Homo sapiens: one gene and its partner. The protein of the gene in region 1 purifies or fractionates together with the protein of each later gene. This does not show direct contact. Each region holds a gene or a part of one and is shown on either strand. Other genes may lie near its edges. The genes, in order: DNAAF9 and ARPIN.

Evidence for each region.
Region 2: the proteins of DNAAF9 (region 1) and ARPIN fractionate together in Homo sapiens (co-fractionation; one large-scale study listed by BioGRID). This does not show direct contact.

Annotation. Positions count from the first base shown.
Region 1 is NC_000020.11:3,253,932-3,257,742, forward strand, and holds part of DNAAF9 (dynein axonemal assembly factor 9), read right to left. Parts: intron 2,281-3,811; coding exon 2,075-2,280; intron 1,354-2,074; coding exon 1,288-1,353; intron 1-1,287. UniProt on the Homo sapiens protein: May act as an effector for ARL3.
Region 2 is NC_000015.10:89,906,347-89,910,157, forward strand, and holds part of ARPIN (arpin), read right to left. Parts: intron 2,067-3,811; coding exon 1,934-2,066; intron 1-1,933. Other genes in the region: ARPIN-AP3S2 (uncharacterized protein LOC100526783), read right to left, coding at 1,934-2,066. UniProt on the Homo sapiens protein: Regulates actin polymerization by inhibiting the actin-nucleating activity of the Arp2/3 complex; the function is competitive with nucleation promoting factors.

The DNA of each region.
Region 1 (3,811 bases):
AGGAGCTAGGAAGCTAACACCCCCGGCAAACCTCAAGCCCTGCCTGAGGTGGTTCCCCACCTCTCAGGTGAGGAGCTCTGGGAGGTCCTAGTGGGATGAAGTTCCCACGGTGTGCAGTGGTACTGATGTGCAAACACACTCTTTTATTTATTTATTTATTTTTTTGAGATAGAGTCTTGCTTTGTCACCCAGGTTGGAGTGCAGTGGCGTGATCTTGGCTCACTGCAACCTCCATCTCCTGGGTTCATGCAATTCTCCTGCCTCAGCCTCCCGAGTAGCTGGGATTACAGGCATGCGCCACCACGCCTGGCTAATTTTTGTATTTTTAGTACAGACAGGGTTTCACCATATTGATCAGGCTGGTCTTGAACTCCTGACCTCAAGTGATCCACCCACCTCAGCCTCCCAAAGTGCTGGGATTACAGGCGTGAGCCACCATGCCCGGCCACAAACACACTCTTTATTGGCTGTTTCCCCCTCTCCTCTTTCATCCTCCTGTTTCCTATTTAGTGTCTCCTAGAATCACTTCCAAAATAAACTACCTGTACTTAACTCCTTGTTCACGGTTGGCTTTCAGGGGAACATGCATTATAAGGACTACCTTATGCCCATGTTGTCCTCCCCAGGAGCACCCAGGTTGTCCGGGCCTATAGGAGCTGTTTATGAAAGGGGCCTCCTCAAATCCAAAGCAGGGGCTCCTGGAGTCCCAGAATACTTTCCTGCCCCACCTGCTCATTACTGGCATCCTGGGGACCTAGACTCTGTGTCCTTTTTAGCTTTTTGTCCCCAAACCCCTCAGGAAAAGGCCCCAGTGAGCATGGCGACTGAAGCAGAGGCTGGGGGTCAGAGCCTGGAGGCTGGGAGGCTCATCAAGGGGGTCTCTCAATCAGCCTCTTATCCTGGCCTCAGGTTCCACAGCCTTCCTATGAGCAGCCTCTGGATCCAGACAGTTTTTGCCTGGGCTCTAGCTGGTTCATCTGTAACATAGGTCTTCTGCAGTTGCTTGAACAAGGTGCCAAGGCAGGGCTTCTGGTCATCAGCTTCTCCCACAAGTACTGGCTCTACTCAATCTGATGCCCAGGTCACACCAGAGGTCTCCTGTGCCCTCCTCACTGAGGCTGCAAAGGCCAGAATTCTGTACGCAGCTTCCCTCTGTGGCCTGGGAGAAGCAAGACCTCCAGCATGTCCTACAAACAGCTCCTCACTCAGAGAATCCAAAATACAGAGCTAGGCAAGCCGAGGACAGCCCTGGGCCACCGAGGGGAGAAGCCAGGGCAAGGCACTCACGTGGATGCTCCTGATCTCCTGTTGCGTCAGCATCCCCCTGGTCTTCAGGGCTTTCCTCTGAGGCTTCTGCAGAGATGGGGAGTGGAGGGTCAGGTCCCAGCAGAACTCATGGAGTGCATGGGCAGGGGAGGGCTCTGGGCTCTATTACACAACTAAGATCTCAGCAGTGGGGAAAGCACGTGCGCTATGGCCTGGATATAATATTCTGTCTAGTCTGCTCTTTGAGAAAACCACTTTCCCATCACAGAGCCCTGTGAGCCAGCAGGGAACAAGCAGCAGAGGACAGCCCAGTGTTTTCGTAAATGGGAATGGTCGTGCCTCTTTGTAGATTCTTATCCCTCAACCCTACCAATGAGAGGCAGACAAAGGGGCAGTCTGAGGCCCCACAGTCAAGAACCGTTTAGAAGCTTATCCAAGTGAGGCAGCCCATCCCTCAGCATAAAGACAGGTCCCTAGTGAGCATCTGCAGAAGAGCCAGGCCCCAGCTAACTCTAGTCCCAGAGTTCTAGGATGAACTAAACCCCCAAGGCTGTGCTACAAGGCTTAGCACCCAAACCTTGCAGAGAACCTGGCTCACAAAGCAAACAACATAGCAGGCCTGCCTGGAGTTTGCTCTCAGTGGCTTCCTCCCTCTCTCAAAGTGTCCCTGCAAGTGCTGGCTGGGCCAGGGAGAGGAAGCCCAGTGGGGAGGCATCAGGGAGGCAGTGGCGGGGCTTCTCAGGGCCAACAGCAGCTCTGAGGTGTCTGGTCACATCTGTGTCAGGTCTGTCTGGGCTCTGGAAACCACCTGCTTAGCTGACTGCCGCAGCCAGTCCTTGATGCTGTCTTCCTTCAGGGAGCAGCCGATGAACACAAGGTAGCACTCCTGCTGCCCGCTGCTGTCTTGAGATACGCTTTTGGAGTCTGGTGGTGGTGTGGGTCCTTCCAAAACTGGCATGATGCTCAAGGAGTTGGCCAGTGTGTTGTAGCAGACCTCCATGGTCCTCTCAGAGTCTGTAAGGAGAATACACATTAGTCCCTGAGAGCCTGCCTTGAAAGGATACAGCTATGCTAAGACTGTGACAATGCAGATGGTTGGGATAGATTCATGAGAAAATGCAAGAGACAGAACTGATGTGACTGGTGGCAGCTTAGAAAGGATGGAGTAGGTGGGCACAGTGGCTCATGCTTGTGGTCCCAGCTACTCAGGAGGCTGAGGCAGGAGGAGCACTTGAGCCCAGGAATTCAAGGCTGCAGTGAGCTGAGATTGCGCCACTGTACTCCAGCCTGGGTGACAGAGGGAGATCCCATTTTGTTTTGTTTTTTAAAAAGGAAAAGAAAGGATGGAGTAAGAGAGAGAGACAGAGAGGAACAAAATAAGTTTCTGGCTTGGCTGATCTGGGTGATCAGGTGGACACTATTATCCCAGAAGGGAAACACAAGAGAAAAAAAAGGTTTATAGGTGGGAGAAGAGGAAGAGTTTGACTCTGCACTTGTGGCATTTGAAAGTCTCTAAGACCCTGAGCGTGAGACATCCACATAGTCCCTGGTGGTTGCTGGAATAGCTGTTATGGAAGAGGTGGTTGAGGAAAAGCAAAGAAACCCCCTTGGTAGAAGTGGGGGGCTCTCAGCAGAGGCCTCAGAGGCCAAGGGAGGAGGGCACAGCCAACAGTACAACAAAAAAATTAGCTGGGTGTGATGGTATGTTCCTGTAGTCCCAGTTACTTGGGAGGCTGGGGTGGGCAGTGACCTAGGATTGCACTACTGCACTCCAGCCTGGGCAACAGAGCAAGACCCTGTCTCAAAAACAAAACAAAACAGACAAAAAAACCAGTACAGCAGTGTTGCACGAAGGTCACACAGATGAGAATGGGAAAAAGTGTTACATGCTAAGGAGATGAGGGCTAGGAGTGACTGGAGACCCAAGAAGTGGGCAAGGGCTCCCTGAAAGGCAGGATGAGAAAGGATCCGGAAAAAAGCGAGGTTAAATTTGAACAAAAAAAGAGTCAATAGCAGATCTAAATAAACAAGAGGCTGGGTGTGGTGGCTAATACCTTAATTCCAGCACTTTGGGAGGCCGAGGCAGGAGGATCACTTGAGCCCGGGAATTCGAGACCAGCCTGGGCAACATAGGGAGACCTTGTCTCCACAAAAAAGAAAAAAAATCAGCCAGGCATGGTGGTTCACGCCTATAGTCCCAGCTACTTGGGAGGCTGAGGTAGGATGATCGCTTGAGCCTGGGAGGTCAAGGATGCAGTGAGCCGAGATCAAACCACTATACTCTGGATTAGGTGACAAAGTGAGACATTGTCTCAAAAAATAAAAAGAAGAAAGAAATAAAAATATTTATTTATTTATTTTATTGAGACGGAGTTTCACTCTGTCGCCCAGGCTGGAGTGCAGTGGCACAATCTCGGCTCACTGCAACGGCCGCCTCCTGGGTTCAAGTGATTCTCCTACCTCAGCCTCCCAAGTAGCTGGGATTAAAGGCATGTGCCACCATGCCCGGCTAATTTTTTTTTTTGAGACAGAGTTTTGCTCTTGT
Region 2 (3,811 bases), on another chromosome or scaffold:
TCTCATACCTGGGTCAGGAACTCTTCAACTGCCAGGCATTGGGCACCCTCTGCCTCTCTGAAACACCCTGCAAATCCCTGGCACCTGGCTGACCTCTGCTTATCTTTCAGGATTCAGTCCTGTTATTCCCTGCTCTAGGGCATCCCCAGCCATGCCTGCCTGGGCTCAGCACCCTTCACGGGATCCAGGCCCGGGCCTGTCCATCTCCTCTACTGGACTAAGAACATTTCAAGTATACGACTGGGTCTTGTTCATCCCTGGACCTCTCAGCATGTGGCACAAGGGCTGGCACATGATATAGATGGTCCCTAATGTTCAGAGAGTCAATGAGTAACTGAAGGTATGAATGAATAAAGTGATAGAGTCCCACTCAACCTCAAAACCTTCTCACCCAGGGGCAGACAGCAAAGAGGCTCAACCAGAGACAAAATCAGGAAGAAGAAGAAGATCATGGAGGGCTTGCTATGGTTGGAATGTATCCCCCAAAATTCGTACGTTAACAGGAGGCTGAGGCAGGAGAATCGCTTGAGCCTGGGAGGCGGAGGTTGCAGTGATCCAAGATTGAGCCACTGCACTCCAGCCTGGGGGACAGAGCCAGACTTTGTCTCAGACAGCAAAAGAAAAGGAAAAAAAAAAAGTCAAACTCAGCTGCCTTTCCTCCACTGATGGAGTATGGACATAATGCCTAGAAGTAAAGTGGCCATCAAAAAGTATTATTATTATTATTACTATTTTTTTTTGAAACGGAGTCTCACTCTGTTGCCTAGGCTGGAGTGCAGTGGTGCAATCTCGGCTCACTGCACCTCCACCTCCTGGGTTCAAGTGATTCTCCTGCCTCAGCCTCCCAGATAGCTGGTATTACAGGTGCACGCCACCATGCCCAGCTAATTTTTGTATTTTTAGTAGAGCTGGGGTTTCACCATGTTCGCCAGGCCGGTCTCGAACTCCTGACCTCAAGTGATCCACCCACCTCGGCCTCCCAAAGTGCTGGGATTATAGGCATGAGCCACCACACTCACCCTAAAATTTTTTTAAAAAAGAAAAAAAATCATATGTTGAAACTTAATCACCAATGTGATAGTATTAAGAGGTGGGACCTTTAGGAGGTGAGTCATGGCATACGAGTGGGATGAGTGCTTTACAGAAGAGATTGAAGAGAGAGCCGCCTTGCCTTCTGCCATGTGAGGACTCAGCAAGAAGGCACCGTCTCTGAAGCGCAAAGCAAGCCCTCACCGGACACTGAATCTGCTGGCACCCTGACCTTGGACTTCCCCGCCTCCAGAACTGTAAGCCAGACATTTCTGTTCTTAAGTAGGTGCAGTGGCACACACCTACAGTCCCAGCTATTCTGGAGGCTGAGGAGGGAGGATCACTTGAAGACTATAGTGTGCTATGATTGCACCTGAGAATAACCACTACACTCCAGCCTGGGCTACATAGCAAAACCCAGCCACTAAAAATGCACAAAGAAACAAAAATTTTAAAAATTAAAAATAAAATAAACAAACACATTTCTATTGTTAATAAATCACCCAGCCTAAGGTATTTTGTTATATAGCACGCACGGACTGAGACCCCAGAACCAAAAGAGGATTTGGGCAGTAAAACAGAGACCGCCTAGGGCCTGGCCTGGGCTCTGCACAAAGGCAGTTAGAGCCCAAAGCCAGGTTTGTGGGTGATTCTGCCAGATACAGGAAATGGCAGGAGGTGGGAAGGCCAGCCTGGCCCCTGGAATGGAGGGGAGGGAACGGGGATCCTCTGAGTAAATGGGAGGCAAGGCCAGGGGTGGATGTGGAAGCCTCAGGCCACATACAGGGCTTCAACATCAAGAGGGCTGAAGAGACACTTTCCAGGGGCTAAGAGGCTCAGAAGAGAAAGGCCGCCACACTGCAGGAGGGCCCTGAGGGAGAGAGGGAGGGCAGAGGATACCTACTGTAGGACGACATGAGGAAGCCCGTGTTCACCTTCCTGGTGGCGCTGAAGTTGGGCTCGATTTCATTTCCCTTGGCGTCGAATTTACGGCGATGGATGTGACTGGGCCGGATATACAGCACGTAGTAGCGCTCCTGGGGCCAGGCAGACAGAGAGTGAGGGGGCGGCTTCATCCCACAACACACACACTCTGGGCTCCGGCTGCAGCCCCGCCAACCTCACATCTACCCTAGAAGCCCACCTCAGCTCCAAAAGATGTTCAAGCTAGGCAGATGCTCCCTCTGCCCCCAAATACTTATGCATTCATGGGTTCACAAGAGCACCTGCCGCATATAATGAGCCCTGCTAGAAGTTCCTAACAGGGCAAGCCCAGGGCTTCCACACAGCCAAAGACAAAAAGTATATATAGAAAACCATAACTTGGGCTGGGCACAGTGGCTCACGTCTGTAATCCCAGCACTTTGGGAGGCAGTGGCGAGTGGATCACGAGGTCAGGAGTTCGAGACCAGCCTGGCCAGCATGGTGAAACCCTGTCTCCATCAAAAATATAAAAAATTAGCCAGGTGTGGTGGCATGTGCCTGTAATCCCAGCTATTCAGGAGGCTAAGGCAGGAGAATCGCTTGAGCCCAGGAGGCGGAGGTTGCTGTAAGCCGAGATCCTGCCACTGTACTCCAGCCGGGGAGACAGAATGAGACTTCATCTCAAAAAACAAAAACAAAACAAAACAAAACCATAACCCAAGCCCGAGGACCGCAAATACCATGAAGCAGGAATGGGCGCTGCCAAGGTGCAATGGAAAGGGCACTGAAAAGGAGCCCTGGGTGAGGGCAGCCACTCTGCCCCTTCCAACAGCCTGGGACAAACCACTCAGTTTCCCCATCACATGGGGATAACGTGATGTCTGTGTTTAAGAATATTATGAGGGTTCAATGAGATAACAGAGGGGCAAGCACAGTGCCAAGCGTGAACTGTGCTATAAGTGCTGTTTGCCAGTTGTTCAAGGCAGGTGGGTGAAATGCTCCCAGGGCCTGAAGAATAGGAGGCCACATCCTGGTGGAATCAAGAAAGATGAAGTCTTGGAGGGTAGGGAGGTCTGCCAACTGTGGGAATAAGAAGCTGTAGGAATAATATTAAAAGCCTGGGACAGTATAGGAAATAAAAGCCAAGAGGCCCTTGTGCATGTTTGAGCCACGCAGGGCACCTGGAGGCCTTCTGGGAGCCCAGGCTGGGAAAGCAAGTGGGCTTGGTTCAGGACAGGTCTTGAGTTGGCATTCGGAGTTTGGATTTTATTTGATGGACAAGGAATCCTGAAAGGTTTCTGAGCAGCAGTGAGACCCTCAGAGATGTATTTCTGGAAAGACATTTGTCCTATTGGCAGCAGGGCAGGGATGAGTTCTGGGGACAGCCAGAAGGCAGGGGGACAGGTGCAAGGTTTTATCAGGACAGGCTGAGGGCCCATCTCAGGTAAGCAGCCATGGAAAGAGGAAGGGAAGGCAAGGGAGGGGGAGGAATGGGCAAGGGCCCAATGCCAGCAGGGCCTGGCATTGCTTACCTGGGGAGGAGACAGTGAGGGTTCCCAGCCCGGTGGCTGGGAGGGCAACTGCACCATCACCAGGAATGGAACTCAGAGGAGGCAAGTTTTAAGAGGGGCTAGGAGAAGGCCCTGCCTGACGGCAGATGAGGCAAGCAAGCCCCACATCAGCATGGAGACACTGCTGGGCTCTCCTGGGCAGGCTAGCTAGGGGCTCTGATGGGTGTTCCCACCTGCCCACTGTGTGCTAAGGAGGGGAGGGTGCAGCAAAATACCGCCTGACATGAAAATAGTGCTGAGCTGTTCTCATGGGGTACAGGAGGGACATGCAGGCTCCATGTAGCACC